Homo sapiens: one gene and its partner. The protein of the gene in region 1 purifies or fractionates together with the protein of each later gene. This does not show direct contact. Each region holds a gene or a part of one and is shown in the gene's direction. Other genes may lie near its edges. The genes, in order: ADCK2 and CLPB.

The links.
Region 2: the proteins of ADCK2 (region 1) and CLPB purify together in Homo sapiens (affinity purification with mass spectrometry; 2 studies listed by BioGRID and IntAct, with this or other methods). This does not show direct contact.

The regions. Positions count from the first base shown.
Region 1 is NC_000007.14:140,675,939-140,683,209, forward strand, and holds part of ADCK2 (uncharacterized aarF domain-containing protein kinase 2), read left to right. Parts: intron 1-3,216; coding exon 3,217-3,345; intron 3,346-5,103; coding exon 5,104-5,199; intron 5,200-7,271. UniProt on the Homo sapiens protein: The function of this protein is not yet clear. It is not known if it has protein kinase activity and what type of substrate it would phosphorylate (Ser, Thr or Tyr).
Region 2 is NC_000011.10:72,424,447-72,431,717, reverse strand, and holds part of CLPB (mitochondrial disaggregase), read left to right. Parts: intron 1-1,354; coding exon 1,355-1,406; intron 1,407-7,271. UniProt on the Homo sapiens protein: Functions as a regulatory ATPase and participates in secretion/protein trafficking process. Has ATP-dependent protein disaggregase activity and is required to maintain the solubility of key mitochondrial proteins.

The DNA.
Region 1 (7,271 bases):
AGTGCAGGAATTGGGAGGTTTTCAGAAGCAACCTGCCGAGTATTTGTTTGGAGGCTCTGATTTAAGATTTTAAGTCCTAGGGATTCATTCCAATGTTTAGAAAGTCTCTTAGTCTGTTCGGACAGAATCCCATAAACTAAGTAGCTTACATACAACAGAAATGTATTTCTCGAGGTTCTGGAGGCTGAAAATTCCAGATCAAGGCATCGGCAGATTCGATGTCTGGTGAGGCCCCACTTTCTGGTTCATAATTGGCACCTTCTGTGTCATCACATGGTAGAAGGGGTAAGGGGTCTGTCTTGGGTCTCTTGTGTAAAGGCGCTGATTCATTCATGCAGGCTCTGCTCTCATGACCTAATCACCTCCTAAAGGCCCCATCTCCTAATACCATCACCTTAGGGCTTAGCATTTCAACAAAGGAATTTTGGGGGGACACAAACATTCATAGCTACAGAGCAATGTAATTTGATAATAAAAGCAAATTAAAACAGAGAAAATAGCATCGATTCCAACAACCATCTCTGCATTAATTCCTCTCAGTCCTGCCACTCATCTGAGTTTCAGTTCCCCTTGCGGAAGTCTGACAGACATCATGTGGTTCCATCACTTCAAACTCACATCTCTGAATCACACCCCATTTGTCTTAAAAATCAGCTCTTCCTACTAAGCCTGTGTCCGTCTCTCAGTAGTCCCATCATGTTCCTAGGCTGGAAGCCTTAGAGTTGTGGGTCTGGGTATAGTGTGTGAGTGTCTCTCCATTCATTTATAAGTTTATGTAACAGTGACTAAAAACTCTGTTAGGGCTGGGTGCGGTGGCTCATGCCTGTAATCCAAGGACTTTGGGAGGCTGAAGTGGGTGGATTGCTTGAGGTTAGGAGTTTGAGATCAGTTTGGGCAACATGGTGAAACCTCATCTCTACCAAAAATACAAAAAATTACCTAGGCGTGGTGGTGCTCACCTGTAGTCCCAGCTACTCAGGAGGCTGAGGTGGGAGAATCGCTTGAATCTGGGAGGCAGAGTTTACAGTGAACCATGATCACACCACCGCACTCCAGCCTGGGTGACAGAGTGAGATCCCATCTCAAACAAACAAACAAACAAACAAACAAACAAACAAAAAACTCTGTTAGACGCTAGTAAGCAAAGAAAACAAGTGAGCTTTCCTATCCCTAAGAAAGACAGTCAGGGCCAGGTGCCGTGGCTCACACCTGTAGTCCTAGCACTTTGGGAGGCGGCGTCAGGTGGATCACTTGAGGTCAGGAGTTCAAGACCAGCCTGGCCAACATGGCGAAACACTGTCTCTACTAAAAATACAAAAATTAGCCGGGCATGGTGGCACACGCTTGTAATCCCAGCTACTCGAGAGGCTGAGGCAGGAGAATCGCTTGAACCCAGGAGGCGGAGGTTGCAATGAGCCAAGATCATGCTTTTGCACTCCAGGCTGGGCAACAGAGCAAGACTCCATCTAAAAAAAAAAAAAAAGAAAGACAGTCAGCCCTCTGTCCATGAGTCCTGTATCCCCGGATTCAATAAAAAATGTAGTTAGGTCTGTGATAGTTGCATCTGTATTGAACATGTACAGACTTTTTTTTCTTGCATTATTCCCTTAACAATGCAGTTTAACAATGATTTACAGAGCGTTTAGATTGTATTAGGTATTATAACTAATCTAGAGCTGATTTAAAGTATATGGGAGGATATGCATAGGTTATATGCAAATACTGTGCAATTTTATGTCAGGGACTGAGCCATCTGGTATCTGAGGGAGGCCCTGGAAGCAATGAACCTGAGCCTGGCTGAACCTCAGCATGGTTCATCAGGGCTCAGAGGAGGACTTGGTTGGTGTCCTTAGCTTGAGCTGAGTATTGAAAGGTGACTGGTGTTTGCAGTTGGACCAAGTGGGGGAATAACATTCCAATTCGAGGCAGTAAAGAAGCCAGAGGAGAGCCGGGGGTGTTAGCCACTCTGGGATGTCGAGCACTATATGGAGTTGGGTGAGGCCAGGTCTTGGGTGGTAAAAGGCAGGGGAAGGTGCCATGAGAGATGGACCTGGACAGAGAAGTAGGGGCCAAATCATGACCCACCTGGATGCCATTCTAAGGAGTGCAGACTTCACCATGCAGGTAATGGATTGGAGAGGAAGGATGGGTCAAGGAGCACACTCGAGGCACCTCTGTTTGTGCTCAGGTGACTGGACCTGAGGGCATGCGCCTTGGGAGTGGCATTGGGGGACAGGGACTGATCTGAGGGCGGTGAGGCTGCAAACTTGATGGCATTGGGCCATTGCTGTGCACGGAGGGGAAGAGAGAAGGCATGATCTGGGGACTCAAAGGTGACTGAGTGCGTGGGGATGGTGAAGGGAAATTCCATTTAGGCACAGAGCTTCAGGGTCTCTGGGCTCCCACCGGGCCACATCCAGGTGTCATTGGATATATCACTCTGGAGACTGGCATTGAGGTCTGACCTGGGGATCAAGGTGCTGTCAGAGGAGGCGCCGGCTGAGGGCTTGGTGGCTGTCAAGGGGACACACACGCTCACTTCGGTCAGGAGAAAGGACATCAGCTCCTGGGGGCACAGGAGACCCAGCCAAGACAGGACAGCGAGAGGCAGCAGGGGTGCCAGGAGAGTGAAGGGCAGGTGCCGGGGGAAGAGCCATCACGGAGAGACAGGTCAGCAGCGGCACCAGCCCTGGATGCCCACAGAGGTTGATGATAAACCTGGAAGTGGTCCTTTGGGTCTGGTGAGTGGTGGTTGGGGAGAGTAGCAGTGGCAGTGTCGATGCGGTGGGTGGAGAGCTGCCGCGAGATGAAGGGGTAGCCCTGTGTGGAAGCGCCCACAGCACGCTGGCCCTAATGGAAAGAGAGGGCTGGGGGCTGGCCTGGAGAAGCCAGACCCCAGGGAGACGGGGAAGGGACTCATGGGCTGGTGTGAGGCAGGCGGGTGGCAAGGGCGAGAGTAGCAGAGAAGCAGTGCAGCCCAAAGCCCACCAGGGCACCTGCCGTCTGCAGCCTCCAGGAGTTCACACAGAGATCTGGGATTGCTGGGGCAGGCTGTAGCCCACGGATGTCGCCTCCTGAGTTTCTGGGCAAGTTCTGCGGGGCAAGCTGGTGGGGAAGGTGGGGTGGATCTCATGACTTGCTAGCTCCTTGGCATTGCAGATGTCACTGTGCCTGTACCCAGACTAGCCCTCATCCTTTCTGTCCATTTCTCTGTAGATTGACCTGCGTTACGAAGCTCAGAATCTAGAACACTTCCAGGTCAACTTCCGGAATGTGAAAGCCGTCAAGTTCCCCACCCCTCTGCGCCCCTTTGTCACCAGAGAAGTCTTGGTGGAAACGTATGAAGTAAGAGTGATGGCTTTGCCTGGCCATACCTTTCACTTGCCACTCGCAGTGGGCCCGTCTCCAGCCCACAGAAAGGCTTCAGTCTGGAGAGAGGATGGGATTTGTGTCTGTAAAACTGTGAGGAGCTGGGATGTGTTGGCCTCGGCGGGAGGCAGTGTTGGAGTGAGGTAGCTGAGAACACTGGGTGTGGCCCGATCCCCTAGATTTGAAAATCTGCTCTGCCATTTTATTAGTTGGTGACCTGCCTTAGAGGATTGTCTCAGGAGTAAATGACACACTGAATGCAAAACAAGGAGTTGGGCACAGAGAAAGTGCTGAACAACCTTGTGTCATCTCACTTGCCCTAGCTATCCTCTACTCTAGTTCAGCCTTCTCTCTCTTTTTTTTTTTTTTTTTTTTTTTTTTTTGAGATAGAGTCTCACTCTGTTGCCCAGGCTGGAGTGCAGTGGCATGATCTCAGCTCACTGCCACCTCCGCCTTCCAGGTTCAAGTGATTCTCGTGCCTCAGCCTCCCAAGTAGCTGCGATTACAGGTGTGTGCCACCACACCTGGCTAATTTTTGTATTTTTTAGTAGAGATGGAGTTTTGCCGTGTTGGCCAGGCTGGTCTGGAACTCCTGACCTCAAGTGATCTGCCTGCCTTGGCCTCCCAAAGTGCTGGGATTACAGGCATGAGCCACTGCACCCAGCCCAGCCTCCTCTTTACAGATGGTGATATGAGATTCAGGGAATCTCATGAATGTGACATGAACCACACAGTGTTTCTAGCTGTGTGAACTTGAGCAAGTTGCTTAACCTCTCTGGGCTTTGGTTCTTTTATTTGTTAATTAGGGATAACAAGATCTATCTCCATGGGTTGTTTTGACAATTTTTTTTTTTTTGAGACAAGGTCTTGCTCTGTTGCCCAGGCTGTGGTACAGTGGCATGATCTCGGCTCACTGCAGCCTCCACCTCCTGGGCTCAAGTGATCATTCCACCTCAGCCTCCCAAGTAGCTGGGACCATAGGCACGAGCCACCATCCCCATGTCCGACTAATTTTTGTATTTTTCTGTAGAGCCTGGGTTTCTCCCTGTTGCCCAGGCTGGTCTCAAACTCCCAAGTTCAAGTGATCCTCCTGCTTTGGTTTCCAAAAGTGCTAGGATTATACGTGTTAGCCACCACACCTGGGTAATTTTTTTTTTTTTTTGTAGAGATGGGGGTCTCCTTACGTTGCCCAGACCCCTATTGGCTGATTCTTGCCCAGAAACCAGCTCTCTGGTGCCCACCCCTATCTTTTCAGGACATCACATCTCTTATCTTCAGTAGCAGAGTTGATAGGTTTCCTTTTCAATAAACCTATGTGACTTGTCATCCTTCTGATAGCTGTTATAGAAGGGAATGTAAATAAGTTCAAATCAATGTGTGGATGACAGATTTTTGTTTTGTTTTGTTTGAGACAGAGTCTCTGTCACTCAGGCTAGAGTGCAGTGGCGCAATCTCAGCTCACTGAAGCCTTGACTTTCCGAGTTGAGGTGGTTCTCCCTCATGTTGTCCAGGCTGGTCTTGAACCCCTGGGCTCAAGCAATCCTCCCAAGGTGCTAGGATTACAGGTGTGAGCCACTGCACATGGCTGAATGACAGATGGGTTCTAGGAAAGGAAATACTCTTTGGGTTACTTCCCAATAAGTGAGAAGACAGCGCTGTGGTGCCACGTGGGAGGAGGAGCCAGCATCACAGGCTGGCTGGGATTAAGCTGTTCTCTCCCTGGTCTTTCTGAAGGAGAGTGTGCCTGTGTCCAGTTACCAGCAGGCAGGAATTCCCGTGGACTTGAAAAGGAAGATTGCACGGCTGGGGATCAACATGCTCCTGAAGATGGTGAGCTCATGGCTGGAGCGGGCTCAGGCCCAGCATGTGGTCAGCTTGCAGATGGGGAGTGGGCTGGGACTCTGGCTATCTGGGTGGGAAGGAGAGCGAAGCAGCAAGCCGCCAGGTTGAGAAAGTCTGGTCTAGAAAGAGTGGAGGCTACCATAAATGGCCATGGTGTCTGTGAAGCTCTTTTATTTTTTTTTTTTTGAGATGGAGTCTTGCTCTGTCGCCCAGGCTGGAGTGCGGTGGCGTGATCTCGGCTCACTGCAAGCTCTGCCTCCTGGGTTCACGCCATTCTCCTGCCTCAGCCTCCCAAGTAGCTGGGACTACAGGCGCCCGCCACCACGCCTGGCTAATTTTTTGTATTTTTTTAAGTAGAGATGGGGTTTCATCATGTTAGCCAGGATGGTGTCGATCTCCTGACCTCATGATCCACCCGCCTTGGCCTCCCAAAGTGCTGGGATTACAGGTGTGAACCACCACACCCGGCCTTTTTTTTCCTTTTTTAAGATAGGGTCTCACTCTGTTGCCGAGGTTGGAGTGCAGTGGCAAAATCTCCATGAACTACAGCCTCAACCTCTTGGGCTCAAGTGATCCTGCCTCCTCACTCCTCAGCCTCCTGAGTAGCTGGGACTACAAACATGAGCCACCAAGCCTGGCTAATTTAAAAAATTGTTTTGTAGGGACTTACTATGTTGTCCAGGGCAGTCTTGAACTCCTGGGATCAAGCGATCCTCCCACCTTGGCCTCCCAAAGTGTTGGGATTACAGGCATGAACCACCATGCCCGGCCTCTTAAGTGCTTTGTCAGTGGCTCATGCTCTGTGTGCTGTGAGAAGAAGGGTGACCATGACCCAGTTCTGCCAGCATTGCCTGTAGTTTAGCAAACAGCTGAGACAATATCTTATTTTAAATGCTGCTTTGCTCATTTGTTCAGCAAATGTTTATTGAGCACCTGCTAGGTGCCAGGCACTGAATTAAGGGCTGGGGTTACAGCAGTGAGCAAAACAGACACAATTACAATGCTCGTGACATACTATTCCTTGGGAAGATAGGTGACGACTAAGTAAATGATTTATAGGGATAGGTACGGGGTACCAAAAGGTCATTTCGGAGGAGACTGTGCTAACCCAGGGATTCACTCAGGAAGTGGCTCCATCTCAGCTGCAGTGTGAAGGTCTAGGTGTCACTACATAAGGACAGGTGGCAGGGAGTTGTCTAGAGAGAATAGCCTTTGCTGAGGCCTGGGGTGAGCTACTGCATGGTGCTCTTGGAGAGACGAAAGCACTTAGTATGGCTTGGAAGAGAGTTTGAAGGAGGGGGCAGTGATTGCTGAGGCTGAGGAGGTGAGAGGAGGCTGAGGAGGTGAGAGGGGCCTGACCACAAAGGGTCTAGTAAATCTGTGAAAGAGTTTGGACTTTAATCCAAGGGCAGATAAGTTCATTTTGAAGATTTTTGCCCTTAACTTTAAAAAATTGAATTCCAATAATATTTAAATATAAAGTGCTCAGATCTTAAATGATGCTTAGTGAATTTTTAAAAAGCATCCCAGTGCCCAGATTAAAACATAGGAGAGTTTTGGCTGGGTGCAGTGGCTCACACCTATAATCCCAGCACTTCAGGAGGCTGAGGCGGGGAGATTGCTTGAGCCCAGGGGTTTGAGACCAGCCTGAGCAAGATGCCAAAACCCTGTCACTACAAAAAAAAAAAAAAAAAAATACAAAAATTGGCCACGTTTGGTGGCAGCATGCCTTTAGTCCCAGCTACCTGGGAGGCTGAGGTGGGATCACCTGAGCCCAGGAGATGGAGGTTGTAGTGAGCTAAAATCATGCCACTGCACTCCAACCTCAGATACAATGAGACTCTGTCTCAAAAAAAAAAAAAAAAAAAAAAAGCCAGGCGCAGTGGCTCATGCCTGTAATCCCAGCACTTTGGGAGGCCGAGGCAGGTGGATCACGAGGTCAGGAGATCGAGACCATCCTGGCCAACATGGTGAAACCCTGTCTCTACTAAAATACAAAAAATTAGCCAGACGTGGTGGTGCATGCCTGTAGTCCCAGCTACTCGGAATTGCTTGAACCC
Region 2 (7,271 bases), on another chromosome or scaffold:
TTTTCTGCAGAGTGAAGGGAGAGTGGATATAGCCATCTCTAAGGAAGGCTTGATCCCCTCCCAGCTGGTGGCTGTCTGAGCCATGCTTGGGTATGTGCTTTAGGTACATCCGGTAAGGTAAGTAGAAAGGACCTGTCCCTGGAATCTAGGCCAGGAGGCATCAATGTCTGAACCACAGGACTGGCTTTCATATGCATGATAAGGTGTATTGTACAGATAAGGAAACTAAGGCTCAGGAGGTTAGATAGGTGGGCTAGGTTATACAGCAAATAAGCGACAGAGCTGGGCTAGACCCCAGGTCTGACTGTCTCCAGATCCTGCTCTTTCACTCTACTCCAGTGCATTTGCTCATGAGTGAGTCTTTTGGCTGGACTGAGAGTTCCCTGAGTCAGGGCTGGCTATGAATCCGCCCACTGCCCAGCAGTGTAGCTCAGAACCAGGCTGGGCACAGAGGGCTCCATGTACCTGGTATTGAGCTATTTGAAAAGATTGTGCCTCTCCTGTTGACTTTTGAGTTTTTCTGAGTCAGTCCAATTTTCTTTATGGCCACAAGGTGGTGGCAACAGCCTGCAGGCTGCCCAGACCAGGCCAGACGCACTTAGCTAGCGTTGCTTTTCTCCTAGGCTTAGTGTCTCCTCTGCTTTGGGTCTCCCTTCCCTGGGCTCAGCACTGGGGAGTTTGCAGACGTCTCAACTGTCATTTCATCTCCTTGACATCCTTGTGAAGCTGGCAGGGCAAGGAGTTTTGTCTATGTTTTACAGTCAGGAAAGCTGTGGTTGAGAGAGAGAGGAGCTGTCATGGTCACGTGGTGAGTAGTGGGAGTGGAATGGAGCTAGATCTCAAAGACTCCTAGTTGAGACCTCTCCATCCTCAGAGAGGCCTACACCCTGCTTGCTCCTCTCCATTCTACCTTTCCTTTTGGGTTTATGACTTGACATCAAGATTCAGAACTGGGTTGAAGAACTGGAGTTGAGGGAGAAAGTGGACAAGATCAGGGAATCTTTAGTAATAACTCTTATAGGAACATAAAGCATATGCAGAGCTTCATAGATTATGAAGAGCACATTATTTACCATAGGCAAGACGTGGTGCTAGCAGTTGACCTGCATTCCCTCTATGATGAGAGGAGTGAAGAGTTTGGGCTCTGTAGTAGAAAGGTGTGGAAGTCAGGTTGTTAACAGTGGACACCATGTGGGGAGGGAATGATTCGTTTCTCATTATATATTGTGACATCAGTTTGCTTGTCAAAGTCCACGTTTCTAAAGTACTGCCACTGTCTTAGTGGGCCCTCCACGCAGTCCTGAGATGGGTATGTCCTGGCCGCGGATCTGACCAGTGCCCCCTTTCTCTTCAGATGCAGCCCTGTTGGAAGCTGCCCGTGCCAACAATATGCAAGAAGTCAGCAGGTGAGTTGAACCCCAGGCCTTGCTCTCCCCTACAGGAGAGGCTGAGCAGGGCGAGCCTCTTCTCGTGTGATGACTTTGCTTTGGAGGAAATCCTTACCCTAAGCTGGGAACTGTCCCCTGTGACATCTCTGTAGTCACAGAGTCACCTGGGCTTCCTTTACCCAGATCACCCCTTGGATATTTTCGGTAGGGAGTCAGCTCCCAAACATCCCTGGATCCTTCAGCTATTTTGTTCTTCACTGGGTTGGTTTGGACTCCCTTCAGCCCCCATATCCTTTGGGTTCTTCTCTGAATCTTCTGATTTGTGCTCATTTCTTTGGGAATGGCCATGTATTACTGCTTGCTGCCTGGACAGGTTGCAGGTCGGCATCTATGGAAAGGCTTGGGGATTTGGGACAGAGCTGGAAGAGACCATCTGCCAGAAGGTCTGGGGCTAGAAATGCCTGCCTGCAGGGCCAGGGGCCCATACCTGGCTTTGCCCGGGGACAGACTGCATTTCTGTAGCTTCACTGGCTCAGCTAGTCTCCAGTGACCACTGGCAGGTTGAATTTGAGGCTTATTATTTGGCAAGGGCAAGATTCAACTCGGCTCAGCCCAGTGCCAGGTATAGGGCAGAGTCTGTGTCCAGGATGGATGCTCAGACTGGGGCCAGCATGGGGCATCAGTTACAGGGCTGTTGGTTAAGGGCAGAGGTCTTATTCTTGTTGAAACTATGCCCCCCACTGGGCCTAACCTTGGCCTCTCTTGGCCATTTATATAGAGCTAGGTGGCCATAGGACACCCCCCTTCCTTGCCATCATGTCTGCATGTTAGACAGGAAGTCAGGTGTTGGGGTGGCTATTTCCACACCCAGTGCCACAGGCCCTTGGTGTTCTTCCCCACCTTAGCTTCCTGAACATACAAGAAAGTGTTGAAAAGCAGCCCACCCCACCAAGACTTACTGCTTTGATTCCCTTTCATTTTATCTGCAGCATTATTATTGATTCTCAAGGGTGCTTTTGGGTATTAATGTTCAAGCCTTAGTTTTTAATAAACCACTTTTGGAAATATGGGCTGGGAGTTGTTTTGTAGCCAAATAAATATGTTGGAGCAATAGTTTAATAAACATGCGATGATGCATCTTAAAAACCAAGCACAGATGTCATCCTGTTGTTATAAGAGCCATTCATAACTGCAGGCTGTGTGTGGCATCTTCATTCCTCCAGAAACAGATGTGCTTTGCTTCATTCTGCTGCAGTACAGGAGTACGGGTATGGAAACTGACCCTTGCTGACCCTGGAATCACCTGTTGGCTACTGCGAAGGGCTGCCGGGCTGCGACTTTCCCCTTTTGGCAGGGCATTTGCAGAGCAGCAATGTTGGGAATCCACTCTTCCATCCCCCAGGGGATGCCACTACCATATTCCATTGAGCTGCCAGGCATTGATTATTTAGTTCTTTCAAATACATGTTTTTCTAATAGCAATTAAACACCCATCCCAAAAATACAGAAAGTAATTGAACTTAACGGTGTATGTGTGATTCAGACAATTTTTCTGAACATTCATTCTCGTGTGGATAGTGTCTGGGGGGGCTTTTCATGTGTGTCCCCAGGCTCTAGCCTGCTTTTCTCCTGCCTCCTCTTGTCCCACCTCACTTGGTCAGGATGACCCTGTCAGAATCTCCCTTCACTCCATGTGAGGACATCAGAGATGAGCGAGGCACAGACCTGCCCTCAGCCCCCATCTCATACAAGACCACAGAGCCAGGAGCAAGCTAAGCAAAGGCGGGAAGCAGATGCTGGCTGGCTGCTGGGCCTGCGGAATATGTTGATGCTCCTGAGGTGGGATTTGTACAGGGTGTCAGAAAAGAGGGAAGGTTGTCTGAGAGAAGCTGGAATGTGCAAGGCCTGCCATGCCCAGGGTGAGGAGTTTTGAACTCTTACTCTGTACACAGTGGGGAGACGTGGGAAGTTTTTGAGCAGGGGAATGACCCAGTTAAGGCTGACTTGCAGAGGAGTGAAGGATGGACTGCATTGGGAAAAGGCTGAGGGCCGATCTGTTAAGAGGCTGTTTCTGTTTCAGTAAAGACAGATTCAAGATGATGAGGGCCTGAATGAGGACATCCTTCCCTCCCCCTCACCCAAAGCAGCTCTTGATTATGAAAGAGTGAGTGGGCCTCTGCTGGGCACTGCAGATGGGGGATGGGGATGGTGACCCAGGCCCTGGTCTCAAGGAAACAGACATGTAACCCACCAGTTATAGTTCTTCCTGCGAACAGAGCCAGGTCTGGGGGCAGTGGGGGTAAAGGGAGCCTGACCATCCTTGCTAGAAGGAAACTTTCTGGAATTCCTACAGTAGGTCCTTATTCAGCCTTTCTGTACCCTAGACTCTGTACAGGTGGTTCATGCTGCTCTTTATTTCTTCTTCAATGTCCTGGGCTCTTAGCTCTGCCCAACAGACCTGCCTATAGCAGGACAGAATCCCATACTCATTTATTTCTTTGAATTTACACATACAGTCATGCCTTGCTTAACAATAGGGACACATTCTGAGTAGTGCAATTTCATCACAGTGTGAACATCATAGAGTATACTTACCCAAACCTAAATGGTAATAGCCTACCACACACCTAATCTATATGGTATAGCCTGTTGCTCCTAGGCTAGGAATCTGTATAGCACGTTATTGCCCTGAATACTGTAGGCAATTGTAACATAATGGTAAGTATTTATGTATCTAGACATACCTAAATACAGAAAAGGTCATTTGTTGCACTATGATGTTGAGACAGTTACAACGTCACAAGAGGATAGGAATTTTTCAGCTTCATTATAATCTTATAAGACCACCTCATACATGCAGTCTATCGTTAACAAACACATCATTGTGTAGCGCATGACTGTAGGTTACACATGGTTGGGTCACTGTGTATATGATTGATATGGTCAATAATATCAGTATTTAGAGCAAAACTCAGACCTCGTAAATAATGTCGTGCTTTACCCTTCTTCCCCACTTGACCTCTCTGGGGCTCTGTACTGTGTCTGCCTCTACTTGACCTCCCCCAGCTCCTGTCCTTAGCCCCAGAGTCTTGGGAAAGTTCTGGATAGTGAAGGGCAGCAGCCTAATGCTCTTCTGCTCCCAGGGGGAGGTATTCGATCCTCCTCTTTAAGGACACCCTGGAATCTTCAGTCCATGGGCCCTGGATGTGGGTCCTCCACAGATGGCCCTCTGCCATCTGTATTCATTATCCTCTGCTTACACCTTTCAAAGCTCTAGTGCTGCTTTCCTTACAGAGCCTTCTTGGATTCCTCCCAGCTGGGTGTGATCTCATCTTCCTTTGCCTCTTCCCCCCACTCTGATCCTACACCTGCCTTCTGGTCTGGGAGGGTATGAGGGTGATCTAGAAAGGACCATGGCAGCTTGTCACAGGAGGGAGCTCCTTTTGTGGAAGAGAAGCTGGAGGTCAGGTTGGAGAAGTAGAGCTGAATGCCACTTGCCACACTGTTCTTTATATGAAGAAGTCTGTGGGCTATATTTCATCTGAAACTGCTGGATTGTGCACCTCCTGAAGGGCAGGGACAAGGTTGTGTTCTCTACCGTCTTTTACCCTGTTCCACAGCACAGCGGCACTTACTTGTTTTTTGTGACTCTTTCTTTGCTTTTTATTGACTTTTCAGTGTACCTGAAGTAAGCAGTCCAGAGGCTTTCACACTCCCCTTGGCTATATCAGAGGGAGGCCAGGTCTCTTCTCTTTCCTCCCTCCCTCGCTCCCTCCCTCCCTCCCTTCCTGTGTGACATCCATTTCCTCCCTTCTCCCCTGAGGCACTTAAGTTCATCCATCTCTGGTTCCTCAGAAGTGGAAGCCTGGCCTCCTACCTGTCAGCAGTGTGAGCAGGTGGTCCTGCTCCTGGGCTTACCCCAAACTTGAGCCTGAGGAACTGCTCACCCGAAACCTAGGGCACAAGGCAGACTAGAGGCACATCTGTCCAGGCTCAGGCCAAGCCATGTGAGGAGTTGTCAGGACTGGGACTGGGAAAAGTGAGGCCTCCTGTTCTCCCGGTGGAGATCACATTTCCTTCAGCACAAAGTGGGTGAAAGACAACACCCCTACCCATCTCCCTTCTCCCAGCAGGGGGCTAGGCCTCTGCTGAGTGCTTACCTCAGTTGTTCATCAGCCCAAGCAGTCTCTAATAAAGGAAGCCTGGCAAGATCAGTCTTGGGCCTCAGACTGCCTGCCCTTTTTCTCCAGGATTTATTTATTCATTTGACAAACAGCATCTGCCATATCCTGAGTCCTCTGCTTGGCACAGGGAACACTTAAGCAGTCATGGTTCCTGCCCATGATGACAGAGTCGGGGTAAACTGTGGCAATAGGGTGGTCAGTGCTGTGAGACAGGAAACTACAGGGGCTGCAGGAGACCAGAGGACAAACAGCCTGGAGGATCTGAGAAAGACTTCCAGAGGAAATGGCACCTGATCATAGACTTAAAATATCAGTTGGACTTTGTAAATAGAAGGGGAAGCCATTCCAGGCAAAAAGGGCAGCATATGTGGTAGCATAAGGCAAGGAGCAGCCTGGGGGGTATGCAGAGGGGAAGTCACTTGCTGTTCGGTGTTGCTGGATCACAGTCTGAGGCCAGGAGGGACTGGAGACAGGTAGCGACCTGGTCGTGGAGAACATTGATTGACTCTCCGTTTGTCCCTCAGTCGCCCATCTGTCCAGCCTGTGCTTTGTGCCTAGCCCTGAGCTGAATTTGTGGCAACAAAATGAGGAAGGAGAAACAGTCCCTGCCCTAGAGGAGCTCGTGTGCCCTCTGGTGAGGAAGAAGGACATGAGTCAAACATTGAGAGCCAGTGAAACAAGGAACAAATTACCTACCTTCCAACTAACATGAAGATGATAATAACTAACCCCACAGAGTGGCAGAGTCATTATTACTAATAACAAAATGATTAATTCATTCAGCCAATACTTACGAGTGCATATTCAGAGCTAGGCATTGGGCTGAATGTGGCAGTTAACAGTAACGAACAAGATTGGCACAGTCCCTGCCCTCTTGGCACAGTCTAACTAGGAGTCAGATAACTAATTATGCAACTGTAAAATTAGTAGAAAGAGTTTACTGGGGCCAAGTTTGAGGACTGCAACCCAAGAGTCTAGATTCAAGTTGCCATAAATATATGCTCCAGATTAGCAACAGTTGCAAGTGTGTTTTTAAAGGGAAAAACAAGAGACACTTTTTTGTTGTTTTTGAGACAGAATCTCAGTCCGTCACCCAAGCTGGAGTGCAGTGGCACGATCTCGGCTCACTGCAACCTGCGCCTCTTGAGTTCAAGTGATATTCATACGTCAGCTTCCCGAGTAGCTGGAATTAGAGGTGCATGCCACCACACCTGGCTAAGTTTTTTTTTGTGTTTTTTTTTGTTTTGTTTTGTTTTTTTTGAGACGGAGTCTCATTCTGTCCCCCAGGTTGGAGTGCGGTGGTGCGATCTCGGCTCACTGCAAACTCCGCCACCCGGGTTCATGCCATTCTCCTGCCTCAGCCTCCCGAGTAGCTGGGACTACAGGTGCCCGCCAACGCGCCCGGCTAATTTTTTGTATTTTACAAAGAGACAGGGTTTCACCATGTTAGCCAGGATGGTCTGACCTCGTGATCCGCCCGCCTCGGCCTCCCAAAGTGCTGGGATTACAGGCGTGAGCCACCACGCCCAGGGTATTTTTGTTTTTTTTTTAAGTAGAAATGGGGTTTCACCATGTTGGCTAGACTGATCTCGAACCCCTGACCTCAAGTGATCTGCCCACCTCGGCCTCCCAAAGTGTGCTGGGATTACAGGCCTGAGCCACCACGCAGAAGAGGCACTTTCCAAGTTGTTTACCAAGA